Linked DNA regions of Homo sapiens. The protein of the gene in region 2 interacts with the protein of the main gene of each other region in a biochemical or structural test. Each region holds a gene or a part of one and is shown on either strand. Other genes may lie near its edges.

The links.
Region 1: the proteins of RAB11FIP3 (region 2) and RACGAP1 form a complex in vitro, tested with the Homo sapiens proteins (one study listed by IntAct).

Annotation. Positions count from the first base shown.
Region 1 is NC_000012.12:49,990,234-50,001,496, reverse strand, and holds part of RACGAP1 (rac GTPase-activating protein 1), read left to right. Parts: intron 1-244; coding exon 245-325; intron 326-1,763; coding exon 1,764-1,881; intron 1,882-2,225; coding exon 2,226-2,356; intron 2,357-4,292; coding exon 4,293-4,457; intron 4,458-6,987; coding exon 6,988-7,083; intron 7,084-7,167; coding exon 7,168-7,366; intron 7,367-8,841; coding exon 8,842-8,947; intron 8,948-9,119; coding exon 9,120-9,252; intron 9,253-9,363; coding exon 9,364-9,499; intron 9,500-10,704; coding exon 10,705-10,813; intron 10,814-11,153; coding exon 11,154-11,229; 3' UTR 11,230-11,263.
Region 2 is NC_000016.10:496,944-508,206, reverse strand, and holds part of RAB11FIP3 (rab11 family-interacting protein 3), read right to left. Parts: intron 10,916-11,263; coding exon of another isoform or gene 10,906-10,915; exon of another isoform or gene 8,220-10,905; intron 5,204-8,219; coding exon 5,110-5,203; intron 4,944-5,109; coding exon of another isoform or gene 4,914-4,943; exon of another isoform or gene 4,542-4,913; intron 2,684-4,541; coding exon 2,580-2,683; intron 1-2,579. UniProt on the Homo sapiens protein: Downstream effector molecule for Rab11 GTPase which is involved in endocytic trafficking, cytokinesis and intracellular ciliogenesis by participating in membrane delivery. Recruited by Rab11 to endosomes where it links Rab11 to dynein motor complex.

The DNA.
Region 1 (11,263 bases), on a different chromosome or scaffold from region 2:
TTCTCCATAGCTTGCTCATTTTTTCTAGGGCACTGAGAGCATTTTTGTACAACATATTCTTTTGAAACAGCTTATTCTTCATGTGGAAATAGGCAAAGAGAGAGAGAGAGAGAACACATTGTTTGTTATTTACTGTAGCCCTAATCCCCAGGACCTGTATCCAAGTTGTTTGATGGAATAATTTTATCTTCTGTGCTTCAGATCTGCTTGGCATTAAAGTTACGGGTCTTTGTCTCCTTTCTAGCGCTCTACTAGCCGACAGTTTGTTGATGGTCCCCCTGGACCTGTAAAGAAAACTCGTTCCATTGGCTCTGCAGTAGACCAGGTAAGAATAGTCAGGCCAAGGTAACAGAGATTACTGGCCCCAAGCATTAAAACTTCTCTGAGTCAGCATTGCAGCATTGTTTTGAGAGACATGATGTTTAGTTAAAGTTTTTGTTTGTTTTTTGAGACAGAGTTTTGTTCTTGTAGCCCAGGCTGGAGTGCAATGGCACCATCTTGGCTCACTGTAACCTCCACCTTCCAGGTTCAAGTGATTCTCTTGTCTCAGCCTCCCACGTAGCTGGGATTACAGGCGCATGCCACCACGTCTGGCTAATTTTTGTATTTTTAGTAGAGACAGGGTTTCATCATATTGGTCAGGCTGGTCTCGAACTCCTGACCAGGTGATCTACCTGCCTCAGCCTCCCAAAGTGCTGGGATTACAGGCGTGAGCCTCCGTGCCTGGCCTTTGGTTAAAGTTTTTCTATGCAGTAGGATCCTTATCCCTATGAATGGAATTACTCTGATGTAGTAAACAACTGTCAGAGTGAGTCTTAGTTGCTTGAATATATACCCCCATGACCTATGTTTATCTTCTTAGGTACGAGATTTCTTTATTTTTACTTTTTAAAGTAGAGGGGGAGTCTCTCCTTGCTGCCCAGGATGACTCGAACTGCGGGGCTCAAGTGATCTTCCCACCTTGGCCTCCCAAAATGCTGGGATTGCAGGCATGAGCCACTGCACCCAGCCAAACATCAGATTTCAACATAAGAATGTTTCAGGTCAGGCGTGGTGGCTCACGCCTGTAATCCCTGCACTTTGGGAGGCCTAGGCAGGTGGATGATCACCTGAGGTCAGGAGTTCGAGACCAGCCTGGTCAACATGGCGAAATCCCGTCTCTACTAAAAATACAAAAATCAGTCGGCCAGGCGCGGTGGCTCACGCCTGTAATCCTAGCACTTTGGGAGGCTGAGGCGGGTGGATCACGAGGTCAGGAGATTGAGACCATCCTGGCTAACACAGTGAAACCCCATCTCTACTAAAAATACAAAAAATTAGCTGGGCATGGTGGCAGACGCCTGTAGTCCCAGCTACTCGGGAGGCTGAGGCAGGAGAATGGCGTGAACCCGGGAGGTGGAGCTTGCAGTCAGCCGATATTGGGCCACTGTACTCCAGCGTGGGCGACACAGCGAGACTCCGTCTCAAAAAAAAAAAAATCAGTCAGGTGTGGTGGCGCATGCTTGTAATCCCAGCTACTCAGAAGGCTGAGGCAGGAGAATGCCTTGAACCTGGGAGGCGGAGGTTGCAGTGAGCCGAGATCACGCCACTGTTCTCCAGCCTGGGCGGTAGAGTGAAAAACTCTGTCTCAAAAAAAAAGTATCAGACTGGGGTCTTAAGTCTTGACTAAGACTAAGGAATTTTTTACCTGCTCCAAAATACCCTATAGTGGAGGGTAAGTTAGATTCTTTGTTTGTCTTTCCTCATTACTACTTTTGTTGCAGGGGAATGAATCCATAGTTGCAAAAACTACAGTGACTGTTCCCAATGATGGCGGGCCCATCGAAGCTGTGTCCACTATTGAGACTGTGCCATATTGGACCAGGAGCCGAAGGAAAACAGGTCCATTGAATTTGTGACTAAACTGGCCTGTGTAAAACAACTAGCAAAATTTTGGAGAGTTGGTTTCTTAGAACCCTCTGGAGGCGGGGATTGGATGTATTGGGTAGTTTCTTACTGCTGCATACCGAGGACCAGAGAACTGCTTGTGTCATGCTTTACCTTTGAATTGCTAGCCCACTGGCATAACTTTAGTTTTTCTTGAAACTGTTTTTTTACATAGCCATTAGTTCTCACTTTTGGCTATGATAACAGATTACTGTTTATCTCCCAGTTAAAATTGGAGCTAAAATTTAGAAGGAGCAAAATACTTAAGACACAAAGCTTAAAAGTTGCTTGTTTTCTAGGTACTTTACAACCTTGGAACAGTGACTCCACCCTGAACAGCAGGCAGCTGGAGCCAAGAACTGAGACAGACAGTGTGGGCACGCCACAGAGTAATGGAGGGATGCGCCTGCATGACTTTGTTTCTAAGACGGTAAATCTGTGATTGTTGTTTGTGTTTTAATTTTTTAATTGTGAAAGTAATAAATACCAGGAATAAAGTTAAATACTTTAGTGTTATAAAGTTAAATGTCAAATTTCCTTCCTCATTCCAATTTTACTCTCCAGAAGTAACTATTGGTTACAGAGGTAAGTTTCTTTCCATTCTGTGAGTAATACTAAATTAAAGAGACCAACTTTTCTGAAGCAATTGTTAGTACTTTTTTTTTTTTAATTTGAGACAGAGTCTTACTCTGTCACCCAGGCTGGAGTGCAGGGGTGTAATCATAGCTCACTGTAGCCTTAACCTCCCAGTCTCAAGCAATCCTCCTGCCTCAGCCTCCTGAGTAGTAGGGATACAGATGTGTGCCACCACGCCCGGCTAATTTTTAAATTTTTTGTAGAGACTTGGTCTTGCTATGTTGCTCAGGCTGGTCCTGAACTCCTGGGCTCAAGTGCTCCCCCTGCCTCAGCTCCCAAAGTCCTGGGATTACAGGCATGAGCTACTGTGCCTGGCCCATTGTTAGTACTTTTTAGTGACACATGTTTACATTTTTTCTTGAATATATCACCTAAGATTTTCAAAATGTTTTGCTTTTGTACCATTTTATTTCCTTATAAAAATCCAAGCAAATTAACTGAGGCTCAGAGGAGTTAACTGACATTTTTGAGCCACATGATAGTAAGTGACAGATTTCACATCCAGGTTTTCTTTTTTTCTTTTTTTTTCTTGAGACAGAGTCTCACTCTGTTGCCCAGGCTGGAGTGCAGTGGTGCGATTTCGGCTCACTGCAACCTCTGCCTCCCGGGTTCAAGCAATCCTCCTGCCTCAGCCTCCCGAGTAGCTGGGATTACAGGTGCCCACCACCATGCCCGGCCAATTTTTTGTACTTTTAGTAGAGATGGGGTTTCACCATGTTGGCCAGGCTGGTCTCAAACTACTGACCTCAGGTGATCCTCCCGCCTCAGCCTCCCAAAGTGCTGGGATTACAGGCGTGAGCCACCATGCCCTGCCAACATCCAAGTTTTCTGCTCTTTGTAAACAAGTTCTTTCCACTATCACACACTGCTGCCTTCCAGTGGGATGACCTTAAACAAGTTACTTAAACTCTCTTTGCTTCTGTTTCCTCATCTTAAAATGAAGAAAACAAAACCTATTTTATGGGATTACTGTGAGAATTACATATGTAAATATGTCTAAAGGGCTTAGAAAATTTTTTGGCACATACTAAGTGCTCAATAAATGTTAGTTGATTATGGCTGGGCACAGTGGCTCACGCCTGTAATCCCAGCACTTAGGGAGACTGACGCAGGCAGATCACCTGAGGTCGGGAGTTCGAGACCAGCCTGACCAACATGGAGAAACCCCGTCTCTACTAACAATATAAAAATTAGCCGGGCGTGGTGGCGCATGCCTGTAATCCCAGCTACTTGGGAGGCTGAGGCAGGAGAATCGCTTGAACCCGGGAGGTGGAGGTTGCAGTGAGCCAACCTCTACCACGCCATTGCACTCCAGCCTGGGCAACAAGAGCGAAACTCTGTCTCAAAAAAAGACAAAAAAAGGCCAGGCCCAGTGGCTCACGCCTGTAATCCCAGCACTTTGGGAGGTCGAGGTGGGTGAATCACAAGGTCAGGAGTTCGAGACCAGCCTGGCCAACATGGTGAAACCCTGTCTCTACTAAAAATACGAAAAATTAGCTGGGCGTAGTGGTGGGCACCTGTAATCCCAGTTACTCGGGAGGCTGAGACAGGAGAATCGCTTGAACCTGGGAGGCAGAGGTTGCAGTGAGCTGAAATCACACCACTGCACTCCAGCCCAGGCGAGAGAGTGAGATTCGGTCTCAAAAAAAAAAAAAAAAAAAAGTTAGTTGATTATGATGATAATTTTCTAATTCATATCACTCTGTTCCTTCTGCCCTGTTTTATCCCAGGTTATTAAACCTGAATCCTGTGTTCCATGTGGAAAGCGGATAAAATTTGGCAAATTATCTCTGAAGTGTCGAGACTGTCGTGTGGTCTCTCATCCAGAATGTCGGGACCGCTGTCCCCTTCCCTGCATTCCTACCCTGATAGGAACACCTGTCAAGATTGGAGAGGTATGACTTATGCAAGCCGTCATTGTTTTATGGCCTCTTTATTCGCCTTTCAAAGGCTTAGTGTCAGTTTTTGTTCTAAAATTAATCATCTCAAATATATTTCTTTCCACAAATAATGACTAGAATTGTAAGATACTTACTTGTAGAAGAGTCCTGTTTGGGTTTGTCTGTCTAATACCTTTCTAAACCAAACTTCTTTCCCCGCCCCTTTTTCCTTCTTGCTCTTCCCTGCTTCTCCTTGCCTCTTCTTCCTTCCTTCCTCCCCTTCATCCCATTTTGGAAAATTTCAGACATATATAAAACTAGAGAAATTAGTATAACTAACCCCTGGTTCTTATCACTTAACTTCCATGATTACTAACTTGTGTCCATTTTTTTTTTTTTTTTTTTTTTTTTTTTTTTTTTTTTTTTAGCTCTATTGCCTAGGCTGGAGTGCACTGGCAGGATGTCAGCTCACTGCAACCTCCGCCCCCCTGGGCTCAAGCGATTTTCTTGCCTCAGCCTCCCAAGTACCTGGAATTACAGGCATGTACCACCACCATGCCCGGCTAATTTTTTTTGGTTGTATTTTTTAGTAGAGATGGGGTTTCATCATGTTGGCCAGGGTGGTCTCAAGCTCCTGACCTCAAGTGATCCGCCCACCTCAGCCTCTCAAAGTGCTGAGACTACAGGCGTGAGCCACCGCGCCTGGTCATGTCCATTCTTTTTTTAATGTCTCTCTTTTTTTTGAGACAGAGTTTCCCTGTTGTCCAGGCTGGATTGCAGTGTTGCAACTTTGGCTCACTGCAGCCTCTGTCTCCTGGGCTCAAGTGATTCTCATGCCTCAGCCTCCCAAGTTGCTGGGACTACAGCCATGTGCCACCATGCTCAACTAATTTTTTTGTATTTTTAGTAGAGACGGGGTTTTGCCATGTTGGCCAGGCTGGTCTTGAACTCCTGACCTCAAGTGATCCGCCTGCCTCGGCCTCCTAAAGTGTTGGGATTCTAGGTGTGAGCCATGGCACCCAGCCTTTATGTCTGTTCTTGATTTATCAATACTGTCGTTGCCTCCTCCTGACTCTGTCCAATGAATTACTTGGAAGCAAATCTCAGCTATCATATAATTTTATCTGTGATAAAATTATCTTTTATTCTTGCTCTTATGTTAGACATACTTCATAATAGGTTATCAAAATGAAGTTGCTTATTTCCAAATATTTAACCAGTTTAATCCAAACTGATTAAATCCATTAAGAAATTATTTATTGCTGAGTGTGGTAGCTCATGCCTGTAATCCCAGCACTTTGGGAGGCTGAGGCAGGAAAATCACTTGAGCCCAAGAGTTTGAGACCAGCCTGGACAACAAAGCAAGACTCCATCTCTACAAAGAATAAATAAATAAGTTAGCCAGGTTAGTGGTGTGCGCCTGTGTTTGTAGCTCCTCAGGAGGCTAGGTTGGACTATTGCTTGAGGTGGGGAGGTTGAAACTGCAGTGAGCTGTGATCACACCACTGCACTCCAGCCTGGGGAATAGAGCAAGACCCTATCTCAAAAAAAAAAAAAATTATTATGTAAGTAACATTAGCAAGAATCAAAATGACTATCTTCCTACCTACTCTTCAGCAAATCAAATATTATTTTCCCCTGATCTTACAAGTTCTTATCCATGCCTGTACATTTTGTTTTGTTTTGTTTTGTTTTGTTTTGTTTTTGAGAGGGAGTTTTGTTCTTGTTGCCCAGGCTGGAGTGCAATGGCGCAATCTCGACTCACCACAACCTCCACCTCCTGGGTTCAAGCGATTCTCCTGCCTCAGCCTCCCTCATAGCTGGGATTACAGGCATGCGCCACCATGCCTGGCTAATTTTGTATTTTTAGTAGAGACAGGGTTTCTCCATGTTAGTCAGGCAGGTCTCGAACTCCTGACCTCAGGTGATCCGCCCACCTCGGCCTCCTACAGTGCTGGGATTACAGGCGTGAGCTACCGCACCTGGCCGCCTGTACATTTTTTTTACACATGTTCTGTACTCTAATATAGAACCATGGAGTTCTCCCCTACAGGTAGGTTTGTGTCATAATCAACTGATAAGATATGTTAAATAATTTTTTTTACTGAGAATAATGAAAGTATACACAATTTTTTTCTCTTGTTCCAGCTTTCTTCTGTTAGAAAAAAAAATCTGTTTAGAGTAATAAATTATTTTATATTAAAGGCTATACCTGTAACCTCATTATTGCTTGTTTTCTGCTGTCCTTGAGTGGATGAGAAGGAGGTAATTATAGCTGGTGGTCTTATTCCTTGTTCACATAACAGTGTGGTGTATATATGAAAAAGAAAAAGTGTGGTATATATGATAATAAATCAGTCCTGGTGTGGAGGTAGGAAAAATAATTGAGAGTCTCTGTTTTAATATATGCTTTGGGAATAGGAATGTAAAAGTAGACATGATGTCCCAGTTTGAGAATAAGATTGGAGGTGGTTCTTCGCATGTGGTCTTCATCTGTTGGTCTACATGGCGTAAATAATAATTTAAAGCTCTTTTTTTTTTCCAGGGAATGCTGGCAGACTTTGTGTCCCAGACTTCTCCAATGATCCCCTCCATTGTTGTGCATTGTGTAAATGAGATTGAGCAAAGAGGTCTGACTGAGGTAAGAGTCAACTGTAGGAGATGGTGAATTTGTTATTTGTGTTAATTCGGAGGTTTTTAAATAAAAATGTCATCTTGATAATAGACAGGCCTGTATAGGATCTCTGGCTGTGACCGCACAGTAAAAGAGCTGAAAGAGAAATTCCTCAGAGTGAAAACTGTACCCCTCCTCAGCAAAGTGGATGATATCCATGCTATCTGTAGCCTTCTAAAAGACTTTCTTCGAAACCTCAAAGAACCTCTTCTGACCTTTCGCCTTAACAGAGCCTTTATGGAAGCAGCAGGTAAGGGCAGATGTAATACTTGAATATGAATTCCTCCACGGCAGTAGTTTTTCTTACTCTCTTTATTTTTTTATTTATTTTTTATTTTTTAGACAGAGTCTCACTCTCGCCCAGGCTGAAGTCAGTGGCGCAATCTCAGCTCACTGCAACCTCCGTCTCCCAGGTTGAAGCGATTCTCCTGCCTCAGCCTCCTGAGTAGCTAGGATTACAGGCGTGTGCCACCATGCCTGGTTAATGTTTTCTATCTTTAGTAGAGATGGGGTTTCACCATGTTAGCCAGGATGGTCTCGATCTCCTGCCCTGTGATTTGCCTGCCTCGGCCTCCCAAAGTGCTGCGATTACAGGCGTGAGCCACCGTGCCCAGCCTCTTTTTTTTTTTTTTTTAAGACGGAGTCTTTCTCTGTCGCCCAGGCTGGAGTGCAGTGGCGCTATCGGCTCACTGCAAACTCCGCCTCCTGGGTTCAAGCGATTCTCCTGCCTCAGCCTCCTGAGTAGCTGAGATTACAGGCGTTAACGGTGTTATACCATGTTAGCCAGGCTGGTCTCAAACTCCTGACCTCAGGTGATCTACCCACCTTGTCCTCCCAAAGTGCTGGGATTACAGGCATGAGCCACCACACCTGGCCACCTTCCTCTTTTTATTAGCTCCTGCCTAGTACAATGCCTGAAACATAGTAGGTGCTCAAGTAGTTTGATGGATGAGTAACTGTATGCGTGTCACCCTTGCCTATCCTCTTGCTTTCTCATTACGTTATTGTGTACAGTGTTCTTCCTTTCTTTCCTTCCTCTCCAGTTAGGTTGGAGCTTTTTCAATTCTTAGAATATACCAAGTTTACTCCCTACCTTAAGGCCTTCACATTTGTTGTCTCAACCTGAATGCTCTTACATTAGATACAGTATGGTTTGCTCCTTTATTTCTTTCATATTTCTCTTCATATACCTTGTCCCCAGAAACACCTTTCCTGACAACCTTGTCTAGATTAACAGCTCTCATTTCTTTCTAGCTTCTTGCCTGCCTTGTTTTCTTCATTTATGTATCACTCTACCTGATAGGTATTTGCTTTTTGACTGACTCCACCAATAGAATGTAGGTTCCATAAGATAAGGGCTTTGTTTACTTCTGCTTTATCCTCAGCACTTGTACCTGGCACATCGTAGGCCCTTAAATATGTCTCATGAATGAATACCTTCTTGGTAATTGTAGTCACTGCAATTGTATGCCTGTCTGCCTAGCACATCAGTTGCCAACTGCTTTCCCTAACTGCAAAGGCCGATTTTTTAAAAGTTTTGACTTCTAATATTGAGCTGTTGGCCAGTATCCTGCTTGTTAATGAAACTAGAGTCTGATGTAGTCATGAACTAATCAGGAGTTTCAGAAGCTTACTGTATAGATGAGACTTTGTGGTCGATAACTTGGAAGCCCGCTGTCAAGGGAAAGAAGTCTAGGCCTCTTGGTGCTTTCTTTTCAATTACAGAAATCACAGATGAAGACAACAGCATAGCTGCCATGTACCAAGCTGTTGGTGAACTGCCCCAGGCCAACAGGGACACATTAGCTTTCCTCATGATTCACTTGCAGAGGTGAGTACAGCAGAAACTTGTTCTGGGAGTTAGGGAATTTTTTTCCAAGGGGAAGATAATGTGGGTTGAGTGTTTGGGAGTATGAGGGATGAATTGTTTTCTTATAGAATTTATATTTTGGTCTGCATTTAAGCAAGGAGCAAGACTTCTAATTTAATATTCTTTTGCTTAGAGTGGCTCAGAGTCCACATACTAAAATGGATGTTGCCAATCTGGCTAAAGTCTTTGGCCCTACAATAGTGGCCCATGCTGTGCCCAATCCAGACCCAGTGACAATGTTACAGGACATCAAGCGTCAACCCAAGGTAGGCAGGTGCGTGTGTGTGTGTATGTGAACTTGTGTAATGTGATAACTTGAAAGACAGTTGAGAAGCCCTGAGCTTTGGAAGTTTGCTAACAGATTTGCTGGCTTTTAGGTGGTTGAGCGCCTGCTTTCCTTGCCTCTGGAGTATTGGAGTCAGTTCATGATGGTGGAGCAAGAGAACATTGACCCCCTACATGTCATTGAAAACTCAAATGCCTTTTCAACACCACAGACACCAGATATTAAAGGTAAGGCCCAAGATGTGCTTCTTCAGGGACTTGACTCTCTCTTTAGTTTTAGTCATATGACCTCTTCCTGCCTTTGCTAGAGCTGTTTGAAAATTCTAACATTAAAGGAAAATTTGTATAATTCTACCATCGTAATTTTTTTTTGCTTTTCCATGTTCTCCTTTCTTTATCCATATGGATATATGTTTTTTAAATATAGATATAATAGGCTGGGCATGGTGGCTCACACCTGTAGTCCCAGCACTTTGGGAGGGAGGCTGAGGCGGACGGATCACAAGGTCAGGGGATTGAGACCATTCTGGCCAACATGGTGAAACCCCATCTCTACTAAAAATACAAAAATTAGCTGGGTGTGGTGGCGCATGCCTGTAATCCCAGCTACCAGGGCGGCTGAGGCACAAGGAATTGCTGGAACCCAGGAGGCGGAATTTGCAGTGAGCTGAGATCCCGCCACTGCACTCCAGCCTGGTGACAGAGTGAGACTCTGTCTAAAAAAAAAAAAAAAAAAAAAAAAAAAATATATATATATATATATATATAATAGTTTAAATATAATTCATTCTTATTTCACTTAGCATGTTGTGAGAACTTTTTCTCATGTATAATCTTATTTATCATTTACTTAAATGTTCTAGTAGGTATTAACATTATTTTTCAATTTTTCATAATTACAAGTAATGCTATAGTCAATATAGCATTTCTCTTAATGATAAATTCCTAAGAGTGGGATCACTGAATTAAATGGCTTGAACATTTTTATGTGTCTTGGTATGTTTTACCAACTTGATTTATTAAATTTCTTATAGGCTTTTGCCAATTTATATTGCTAACCAACAATTTTATATGAATAGGCTGGTTTCACTCCAGTCTCACTGGCATTGGAGACCCATTCTTTCATTATTGCAAGTTCCTTCTAAGGGAGCATATTGCTTCTTCTAGTATAGCTAAAAGTCAGATGTTTAGATGTTAGATTTGTGAAGTGTGGAGTTAGAGAATGGCCTAAATCAGGACGTGTCAGCTATTCATTGAGTTCAAAAGATACACTAGTGTGTTACAGAATGATGACAAAAATGATCTCTGGGACTTTGCTAGATGTCTAACCTTAGCTCTTAAGTGCTTCAGAGGGTAATCAGCTTAAAACTAGCCATCTAAAAAGATGCCTTCTTTTTTCCCACCTCTCTTAAAAATATGTCTGAACTTTGAAGTGAGTTTACTGGGACCTGTGACCACTCCTGAACATCAGCTTCTCAAGACTCCTTCATCTAGTTCCCTGTCACAGAGAGTCCGTTCCACCCTCACCAAGAACACTCCTAGGTATGCAGAATTGGCCTTCCTAGGAAATAAAAAACAACTACTTTCTTAGACTTCTTATTATATTGAAGCTTATTGAAAGAAAAATTGCATTCGATTTTAGCTAGCAACTAGACTTTAAAAGGGAACGTGGGGCTATAAGGATTCCTTCTTTAAAAAGGTTCTGAAAGTCTTTACTATTTCCCCTCTCTCGTTGTTGGTGACTAAGAATACTTAAGCAACTATTGCAAAATAGTTGTCTAGGGTTTCCTACTTATAATGGGTTATATCAAGTAATATTATAGTTGTTTATTCAACCATTTTTTATAGAATATTTTTCCAGTTCATTCTCTTTTTATTGTAGATTTGGGAGCAAAAGCAAGTCTGCCACTAACCTAGGACGACAAGGCAACTTTTTTGCTTCTCCAATGCTCAAGTGAAGTCACATCTGCCTGTTACTTCCCAGCATTGACT
Region 2 (11,263 bases):
AGGGAATTCGATCTCTGACCTAGAATTTTATGCCCAGCTACACTATGGACTGGAGCAGGGTGGGAGGAAAAAGCACTTCCACACAAGCAGTTCTCAGAGCATCTGGCTCCTGTGCTCCCTTTTCCAGGCAACTATCAGTGACATACTCAGAAAATGAGTTGGCAAAACAGAAGAAAACGTGGGACCCAGAAAATAAGGAATCAAACACAGGAGAAAGCACTCGGAATTCCTAGGATGGCAGCTGTACGGCACAGCTAGAGAGCAAATGGCTCAGAACGGGCAGATGATACTGAAAACGGGAAACGTACTCTTAGGATGGCAGCTGTATGGTAGGGCTAGAGAGCAAATGGCTCAGAACGGGCAGATGATACTGAAAACGGGAAACGTACTCTTAGGATGGCAGCTGTATGGTAGGGCTAGAGAGCAAATGGCTCAGAACGGGCAGATGATACTGAAAACGGGAAACGTGTTGTTTAGGACGTTGGAGGTGAGCACCACAGGGAACAGCCACAGGAACTGAATGTGGCCGGGGCTGCACTGCAGACGGTCAGTGGGTGGTGCCAGGCGGCAGTGTGGACTTCACACCACACACACGGAAAACAGATGAACATACTCCAGACTCAAATGAAACCTCCACAGTCAACTCGACAAAGGCATCTAGGCTGGACATGGTGGCTCACGCCTCTGATTTCAGCACTTTGGGGGGCCAAGGTGGGAGGATCGCTTGAGGCCAGGCGTTTGAGACCAGCATGGGCAACATGGCAAGACCTCATCTCTATAAAAAAATTAAAAACTAGGCCGGGCACGGTGGCTCACGCCTGTAATCCCAGCATTTTGGGAGGCTGAGGCAGGCAGATCACAAGGTCAGGAGTTCAAGACCAGCCTGGTCAATATGGTGAAACCCCGTCTCTACTAAAAATACAAAAATTAGCCCAGCGTGGTGGTGCATGCCTGCAAGTCCCAGCTACTCAGGAGGCTGAGGCAGAAGAATCGCTTGAACCTGGGATGCGGAGGTTGCGGTGAGCCAAGATTGCGCCACTGCACTCCAGCCTGGAGACAGAGAGAGACCCCGTCTCAAAAAAAAAAAAAAAAAAGCTGGGTGTGGTGGTGCACACCTGTAGTCCCAGCTACATCGAAGGCTGAGGGAGGCGGGTCGCTTGAGCCTGGGAGGTGGAGGCTGTAGTCAGCACTCAGCCTGAGCAACAGAGCGAGGCCCTGTCTCTCAAAAAACAAAACAAAACAAGTGCATCTGGCAGCCCCCCGGATTCTCCTTGACAAGGAGGAGACAGTGGTCTTTGGTGGCACTGCTTATGTGTAGCGCACTACGGGAGTCCAGCCCCTTCACCAGCATGCCTGGCCCCTCTCCACTCTGCAGCAGGGGCTGGTAGCAGGCCCTCTTCTGCTGAGAATCCTGGAGAACGGGCAGCCGCCAAGCCCAGGGTCTTCACTCCACAAGAGCACATGCTTTGCTTTGTTAGAATTAAAATGATGTGCAAGTTATGCCCACAATCCCATGAGGCATTCCAATTCTCAGCGCTCACAGGGCAGATGGTCACAAATGTTAGTACCGTGAGGGTGAGGGCTTGGGGGCTTTGGGGATGCTGACCACAAATGCCCTGCTGCCAACACACGTGTGTGCAGGCTGCTCAGAGCCCTGAATCTACCTGCTCAGTGGTGATGAAGACACTGAAGCTTCAAGGGACAGGGCCCTTGGCCGAGCTGAGAATATGTGGAAGAGCCGGGATGTGCCCGCGCAGCTGGGCAGGGACAGAAGCTCACAGGAAGAACCTCTTCTGCAGATCCCACAGGTGCCTCATAGGCCTCCTGGCTGCCTCCTCTGCCCACAAGAGGCTGCCGGTGCCCAGCTACAGGTGTCATAGCCTGGGTAGCTGACTCCTGGGACAAGCTCATCTTACTTTGCACCGGAAACAGTCCTGCAAATCGGCTATGAGACAACATGGCGTGCCTCGTGTGAAAAACACCGAGAATTACACGGTATTCTAAGAAAAGTCTGCAAACCAGAGTGAGGCAAGCAGCTCCCACTCTTTCTCTGCAAACACGGCGTCACACTTCGCTTCCTCCCCAGCACTCCTGCCCACAGCGATGAGACTGCGCGTCCTGTCGCGTACTCAGCAGTCACTGCTCATTTCGCTTTCTGCTGCTGAGCGACTTCTCTAACCTGCATTCTTCCAGGACGGGCAAACCCCGTATGGACCAGAGTGGTGGGAGAGCTGCACCTCCAGGCCTGCTGGTGAGGCTGAGCACTGCGTGGGTTCGCAGTCAGTTCCTCCTCTGTGTGGGTCAGGTCTCAGCGCTCCCGAGAGGGAGGCAGTGCCCTCCTCTGGCCCTCTGTGTGTCTAGGGTTCCATGAGAGCACCAGTCAGAGCCTCGGGTCGCCTGCCTGCAGCCCACTGGGTAGGCTCAGATGACCACCTGGCACCACCCCCTCAGCCGGCTTCCAACGGGGATGGACGGGTGGCCAAGCCCCTGCTGTGTGAGGTAAAGAGAAGTAAATGGGGGCTGACAGGCGGGCACAGGAGGCGCCACGCAGAGGCCCGGGTCTCCTGGCCCAGGCTCACCTGTGCACCAGCTGCAGGTTCTCCTGCCTCAGGCGGCTGTGTTGCTCACCGGTGGCTGCCGTGTCCTTTTCCAGCTCCAGCACACGCCTTTCCAGGAAGACAACCTTGGCAATGAGACCAGGCTTCAGGGTCAGGCAGCCAGAAGCAGAAGGGCCTGCACCCCCAAGGGAACAACCTGGGAGGCCGCCTGGGGATTTTCTCAGCACAGAATCAGATCCACCTAGCTAGGCTGGTGTTGGATCCAACTTGTCCCATAAACCCACAAAGGTGCAGCTCCTAATGGGGCCGGGGTCTTGGGGAGCACTGTCATTCGACCCACAAATGCACACAGTGCCGCAGCTCTGAGGGCTCGGGGCCCAGGGGTGCCTTTGGACTGGCTGGCTGGTGGGCAGCAAGACTCAGCCCCCCAACACACAGTTGGGTCTCTGCTCAGCCAGATGCAGCTCACAGAGGCAGCCCAGGTGCCCATGGATGCAAGGGACAGACAGATCCATGTCTCGGTCCCTCCCTCAGAGAGTTCACACCAAGATGAGAATCAGACACCTGCGGAGGTAGGAGAAGGAGTGAAGGGAGCAGAGGAGGACTTGGCCTGGGTCAGCAGACTTGAGATGCTAGAGAAGTTGTAGGGAGGAGGTGGTGGGGATGCAAGAGGAGGTGAAGTACAGGAGGAGGTGAGGAGGTACAGGAGGAGGTGAGAGAGTACAGGAGGAGATGGGGGTATAGGAGGAGGTGGGGGAGCAGGAGGAGGTGAGGGGGTACAGGAGGTGAGGGGTGCAGGAGGAGGTAAGGGGGTACAGGAGATGAGGGGGTACAGGAGGTGAGGGGGGTACAGGAGGAGATGGGGGTGCAGGAGGAGGTGAGGAGGGTGCAGGAAGAGGTGAGGGGGTATAGGAGGAGGTGAGGGGGTATAGGAGGAGGTGAGGCGGTACAGGAGGAGGTGAGGGGGTACAGGAGGTAAGGGGGGTGCAGGAGGAGGTGAGGGGGTACAGGAGGAAGTGAAGGGTACAGGAAGAGGTGAGGGGGGTACAGGAGGAGGTGAGGGGGTACAGGAGGTGAGGGGTGCACAAGGAGGTGAGGGGGTACAGGAGGAGATGGGAGTGCAGGAGGAGGTGAGGGGGTACAGGAAGAGGTGAGGGGGGTACAGGAGGAGGTGAGGGGGTACAGGAGGTGAGGGGTGCACAAGGAGGTGAGGGGGTACAGGAGGAGATGGGAGTGCAGGAAGAGGTGAGGGGGGTACAGGAGGAGGTGAGGGGGTACAGGAGGTGAGGGGTGCACAAGGAGGTAAGGGGGTACAGGAGGAGATGGGAGTGCAGGAGGAGGTGAGGGGGTACAGGAGGAGGTGAGGGGGGTACAGGAGGAGGTGAGGGGGTACAGGAGGAGGTGAGGGGGTACAGGAGGAGGTGAGGGGGTACAGGAGGTGAGGGGGTGCACAAGGAGGTGAGGGGGTACAGGAGGAGATGGGAGTGCAAGAGGAGGTGAGGGGGTACAGGAGGAGGTGGGGGGGTACAGGAGGAGGTGAGGGGGTACAGGAGGTGAGGGGGTACACAAGGAGGTGAGGGGGTACAGGAGGAGGTGAGGGGGTACAGGAGGTAGTGAGGGGGTACAGGAGGTAGTGAGGGGGTACAGGAGGTGGTGAGGGGGTACAGGAGGTGGTGAGGGGGTACAGGAGGAGATGAGGGGTACAGGAGGAATTGAGGGGGTACAGGAGTAAGTGAAGGGGTCACAGAAGGTGAGGGGGTGCAGAAGGTGAGACGGAGTCTCCCTCTGTCGCCCAGGCTGGAGTGCAGTCGTGCAATCTCGGCTCACTGCAACCTCCACCTCCCAGGTTCAAGTGATTCTCCTGCCTCAGCCTCCCAAATAGCTGGGATTACAGTTGCCCGCCACCATGCGTGGCTAACTTTTGTATTTTTAGTAGAGACGGGTTTTCACTATGTTGGCCAGGCTGATCTCAAACTCCTGACCTCAAGTGATCTGCCCGCCTAGGCCTCCTAATGTGCTGGGATTCCAGGCGTGAGCCACCACATCTGGCTGAAAAGCGGGTCTTGACCACGGCAAGGCTGCCTTGCCCTGGCTGCTGTCACCCATTCCATTCAAGGCCCCAGGAGAAGCCCGTTCCTCAGGCTGTTGGCTCTGCAGTAACTGCAGGGCCAGCCCTTTTCTCCCAAATCATGGGTGCCCCAGGTCGCGTCTCCATGGGCCTGGTGGACTGAATGTCTGGGTGTCCCCCAGCCCGACTCAGACACAGTGGGGGTGGGATACCCGAGGGTGCTCACTCACTGCCCAGTCCACTCCTCCCAGCTGGCCCTTCGTGCACAACAGGAAGACTCCTTTTTCTCACATGGCCACGAGACCCCTTGGGGAAACCTGCCAAAGAGCATCGGGGCTGGATGGACAGTCTGGGGAGCCCTGGAGGACATGGGGTCACCTCCGGCTGTGCTGTCCCCACCTCCCGGGGTGTCTGCAGCGGCCCTTAGGCGTGGCTGTGTTCTAAATCCCCTACTTGCCACCTACCCAGCCCTCCAGGGCCTACCTTGTCAGCAATGTCCTCCTCTGGGCCCTCCATGAGCTCGGGGGAAGGGTCCTCCAGGGCCTCCATGGTCAGGGCCCCTGACTGGTGCAGGTACCTACAGAAAAGGCACAACAACAGAGGGAAGAAAGGGAAAAACCACAGGACATGCTCCGTCAGCACAAGCACTCCCAAGTCAATCTGAAAAGCAGGCAGCAGCATTGCAGGGGACAGGTCCTCCCCTGATCTGGGTGGTGGTCTTCTCCCACTTAAAGCACTATATACAGGGGGAGGTCCCAGGCTGGACATCTTTACCAGGGGCTGGGAGAAAGCAGGCCGTGCTCTGTGGTCTCAGAGTCTTCCTGGCGCTCTTTGGAACCTGACAGAACATGACCTCAGTCCCAGCCAGCGAGTGGCAGAGAGGACTTTGTACTTGGCTGCAATAAAACATGCCCTTCTTCGCAGAGACACGAACAATCTCGTCTCTACCAGAGGCCTGTGAGACATCAGCTCAGGACCTTGACCTGCAGACACCTCCCCTGTGCACATTCTTGATCTCAGACTTTCACAGGTGCTTTCTGTGGCAGGAAGAGTGAGGGTCCCAGGAAAGGTGTGGATCCCAGAAGTCTCACTCAGTGTCACCCTCACGGACACACTGGGAAACTGGTCCGACCGAGTCCAGGAAGACAGCAGACACACGTGTCCTCTGTGGCACCAGCTCCTGTGGACACGCCCCCAGCACCGCAGGCCATGCCAGTTACTACCCGGGCCAGGCTCGGGGACACAGCCTCATGGTCCTGAGTAGACGCAAAGGCCCATAGGCTGCGGCCTTGGGGCAGGAGCTTCTCCAGGGAGTGTGAACTTAGGCGCGCAGTAAGCGCGTGCTTGTGGTCACCACGTGGTCAGATTCGCTGTGGTGAATCTGTACCAACCCAAACTTGCCGGGAGTACAGAAAACTCTCAGAGCACTCGCACAGAAGAGCCAACAGCAAAGGTGCGTGTTCAGTTCTTTATACATCCTGGGAACCTCAGTACCAAGCCAGGCTCCAGGCTGACAGCCTGATGCTCAGAACTGCGTGACCGTTAAAAAGCACTGGCCCTCTCCGAGCTTCCTTGCCTATGAAATGGGGGGACCCTCTCCCAGCCTCCTTGCCTATGAAATGGGGGGACCCTCTCCCAGCCTCCTTGCCTATGAAATGGGGGGACACTCTCCCAGACTCCTTGCCTATAAAATGGGGGGACCATCTCCCAGCTTCCTTGCCTATGAAATGGGGGATCCTCTCCGAACTTCCTTGTCTGTGAAATGGGGGGACCCTCTCTGAACTTCCTTGCCTGTGAAATGGGGGGACCCTCTCCCAGCTTCCTTGCCTATGAAATGGGGGACCTTCTCCGAACTTGTCTGTGAAATGGGGGGACCCTCTCCCAGCTTCCCTGCCTATGAAATGGGGGGAGCCTCTCTGAACTTGTCTGTGAAATGGGGGGACCCTCTCCCAGCTTCCTTGCCTGTGAAATGGGGGGACCCTCTCCCAGCTTCCTTGCCTATGAAATGGGGGACCCTCTCCCAGCTTCCTTGCCTGTGAAATGGGGGACCCTCTCCGAGCTTCCTTGCCTATGAAATGGGGGGACCCTCTCCCAGCTTCCTTGCCTATGAAATGGGGGGATCCTCTCCGAGCTTCCTTGCCTATGAAATGGGGGGACCCTCTCCCAGCTTCCTTGCCTATGAAATGGGAGACCCTCTCCGAGCTTCCTTGCCTATGAAATGGGGGGACCCTCTCCGAGTTTCCTTGCCTATGAAATGGGGGGACCCTCTCCCAGCTTCCTTGCCTATGAAATGGGGGTCTAGAGGCAACTGAGGTTTAACCAAGGTCATGCATACAAACAGCTTGGCTAGGGACGTAGCAGAGTAAGAATTCCATAAAATGTTAATATTTTTCCACTGAAAATGTCTACCAAGTGTATGAAGTTCGATTTGCTTCTCAGTACGGACTGGGCTTGAACATTTCCATCTTTTTCCCCATAAACGCTCTGAGGAGACAAGCCCTGTGAACGTGCACCAGCTGGAACACACCGGTGCCCTTCTGGGGCTCTGGGGATTTCATCAGATTCTCAAAAGCTGCTGCTGATACAGATCATGTTCTTGGCCAGTCGCTGCTCTTAAACGCCCATGACCTTGCCCCCAAACATGAGCCACTCCAGGCATGAAGCTGCAACCCAGAGCCCATCCTGAGAGGCCACGACCTGTCAGCACTTCTGAGCTGTCCTAGAGGCGTAGGCACTTCTGGGGCTGACTCGGGGACACAGCCATCCCCAGGCACCCAGCGTGCAGCCACCACACGTGGCCACCAACGTGAGGCAGAGGGTCCTCAGCATGGGTCATGCGGCTGCTTATTTATTTACTTATTTAATTTTTTTTTTTTTTTTTTTTTTTTTTTTTGCGACAGAGTCTTGCACTGTCACCTGGGCTGGAGTGCAGTGGTGCAATCTCAGCTCACTGCAACCTCTGCCTTCCGGGTTCAAGCCATTCTCCTGCCTCAGCCTCCCAGGTAGCTGGGATTACAGGCACCTGCCACCATGCCCAGCTAACTTTTTGTATTGTTTTTTTTAGTAGAGATGGGGTTTCACTATGTTGGCCAGGCTGGTCTCAAACTCCTGACCTCGTGATCTGTGCGCCTCGGCCCCCCAAAGTGCTGGGAGTACAGGCGTGAACCACCGCGTCCGGCTGGGGCTGCTTATTTAAATCCCCTAGAAAGAGGGATTCTCCAGCTACACCACACCCTCACTTGGAAGGACCCTCCTCCCAGAGAGGGAGCTGTGGAAAAAGCCTGACCTGCCCCACAGGGCAGTAGGTCGAGCCTGGCTGGTGAGCAAGGAGGTACGGGGATCCCTGAGGCCTCCCACCCAGGGCCCAGGGAGCCTGCCTGCTGTGAGCACTTCCTCCAGTCCTGATGGACTCGGCTCTGCCCGGAGCCCCCGGTCTCTGCACACACAGCTGACTGGAGAAAGCCACTTCCATCTCATGGACAGGGACAGAACAAGGCTGAGGGAGGTGAGCAATGCAGCCAGGCCCGGGGGCTACAATGGCTGCTGGCAAAACCCACCATCTCAGCAATAGTTCAGCGCGAAGGGCTGAGAACTGTGAGAAGCGAATCGCGACGTTTATTTTGCTCTTCCTTAGCCTCTTGTGGCAGATTTGGGGCAAAACAACAGATTAAATCTTGTGTACATATATTTACATGTGGATAGACACACTGCAGAAGAGGTCTCTGTTTTGTAAACTCTAACGACAGATAACTGCAGATGGAGCTTTTTTTTTTTTTTTTTTTTTTGAGACAGTCTTGCTCTGTCGCCCAGGCTAGAGTGCAGTGGCGTGATCTGGGCTCACTGTAACCTCTGCCTTCTGGGTTCAAGCAGTTCTCCTACCTCAGGCTCCTGAGTAGCTGGGATTACAGGCATGTGTGCCACCATGCCTAACTAATTTTTGTATTTTTAGTAGAGACGGGGTTTCACCATGTTGGTCAGGCTGTTCTTGAACTCCTGACCTCGTGATCCACCCACCTTGGCTTCCCAATGTGCTGGGATTACAGGCGTGAGCCACTGCGTCCGGCTCAGATTGGGCTTTTTTTATGCCAAAGGGTACCCGTGAAGGAAACATTAAATTTTAAAGGGTGTTTCTGACACAAGGCTGTGACAGCCAACTGCAGGCTGCGCCCCATCCTAGGCACGGGAGGCCTCAAGCAGATGCCTTAGCTGGCCTTGACCGGTCTTTCATGTCACCAGCTGCAGCCTGTCTGGAGTAAAAGACTTGATGAAGCGGGGAGGAAGGTGATGCTGAAGTGGTAACAGAAGTGTAGCTGGGGATGCACGTCACGTTCCTAAGAGCTCAATGCTTCTCTTTTTCTTTCTTTTTTTGAGATGGAGTCTCGCTCTTGTTGCCCAGGCTGGAGTACAATGGCACAATCTCGGCTCACTCCAAGCTCCGCCTCCAGGGTTCAGGTGATTCTCCTGCCTCAGTCTCCTGAGTAGCTGGGATTACAGGCACCTGCTAACACACCTGGCTAATCTTGTATTTTTTTAGTAGAGATGGGGTTTCTCCATTTTGGCCAGGCTGGTCTTGAACTCCCAACCTCAGGTGATCCACCCACCTCAGCCTCCCAAAGTGCTGGGATTACAGGCGTGACCTACTACGCCCGGCCAGCTCAATGCTTTTCTGAAAGGGGTGAGCAAGAAGACAGTTAGAAAAAGATGCATGATGACGTTCACCTCTGCTTCCTCTAGCCCCTAGCCCCTAGCCCCTAAAATGACAGAAAATGGAAAACAAGTGGGACGCGGTGGCTCCTGCCTGTAATTCCAACATTCTGGGAGACCGAGGTGGGAGGACTGCTAGAGCCCAGGAGTTCAAGACCAGTCTGGGCCTGTCTCTACAAAAAATTAAAAAATCATCTGGGTATGGTGGCATGCGCCTGTGGTCTCAGCTGCTCGGGAGGCTGAGGAGGGAGGATCATTTGAGCTTGGGAGGTCTGGGAAGTGAAAACTATTGAGAGCTGTGATGATGTCACTTCACAGAGCAAGACAGAGCAAGACTGTCTCAAAAAGAAAAGAAAGCCAAGAAAAGAGAAGAGAAACAAAAAGAAAAAAGTTTTCATCCATGGCCAGGTGTGACGGCTCATGCCTGTGATCCCAGTACTTTGGGAGGCCAAGGTGGGAGGATCCCTTCAGCCCAGGAGCTCAAGATCAGTCTGGGCAACGTAGTGAAACTCCATCTCTATTAAAAATTAAAAGACTAGCCAGGCATTGGCAATGCGCACCTGTAGTCCCAGGTCCTCAGGAGGAGGAGGTGGGAGGATGGAGTGAGCCTGAGAGGTCCAGGCTGCAGTGAGCTGTGATTGCACCACGGTACTTCAGCCCAGGTGACAGAGCAAGACAATGTCTCAAAATAAAAGAAAATGGAAAACAAAAGGTTTCTGTTCTTGGCTGGGTGTGGTGGCTTACCTCTGTAATCCGAGAATTTTGGGAGGCTGAGGTGGAAAGATTACTTAAGCCCAGGGAGTCTGGGGCTGTTGTGAGCTATGCTTGCACCTATGAATTGCCACTCACTGCACTACAGCCTGGGCAACGCAGCTAGACCTTGCCTATTTTCCTTTTTTTTTTTTAATTTTTAATTTTTAATTTTTTTTTTTTTTTTGTAGAGACAGGGTTTCACTAAGTTGCTCAGGCTGGTCCCAAAGAAACCGAGTCAGAAAGGTTAAACTTCATGGTAACAACTTTAGCTCTAGAAGATAAGCAATGCCGTCAAAAATCTTACAGGAAAATGATCCCACTCTCACAGTACAAACCAACCCAAGCTCAAGTTTATCTCCTGAGCACCTCTTTTCTCAAGAAGCTACAGGAAGATACGCTGGACAAAAACCAGAGAAAACAAATGAGAAGGAAGACGGGGCCAGGGAGCTAGAGGATCCAACCCCCGAAACAAAGGAACCCACCAGTGTGGGGAGACCTGTCCAGGACCACAGCCACGAGGCCTGGAGAACGCCCGGCACAACAGGGCAGAGAGGAGGCTCCAGAGGGGATGCTCCAGAGGAAGCTGGAGAGGCGTCTCCCAGCCCTGCCAGATGCCGGGCCACGAAGCAGGACGGGGACTAGGAAGGCAAAGCAGATAAAGACACAAAGGCAGACTCTGACGGCAGCAGAGGCCACCCGGCAGCCACACTGAGTGGCTCCCTGGGAAGGGCCTTAACCCTGCATGTTTATTTCGGTAAGAACTGGCAGGGGAGGAAGATAAAAGTGTATGTTGCCATCTTTCACAGCAGGAAGCCAACAGATCTATACGAAGCTGGAAAATGAAGAAATGGTCTTTAGGAATTGGAGTCAGACCCATCCCTCACCTTCGACTCACCTTGGGGAGCTGCCCAGACCCGGCTCTGAGAAGCCAGGCTCCTCACTGGGTCTCGCTACCTCAGAGCTAACATAGAGCAGACATCTGGGGATGGCGGCCCCTTCCAGACCTTAGTGAACACACAAGAGGCCCAGCACCAAAAGCTCTGACACGTACCCTCCCTGGTCACAAATCCAGGTCCAAATTCACAGCCCTGGAAACCCCTTTCCCAACACTCCTTCAGGATACCTTCAGCCCCAAACCATGTAAAGTAACTTGCAAGAGTTTAAAAAATACCTTGGAAAA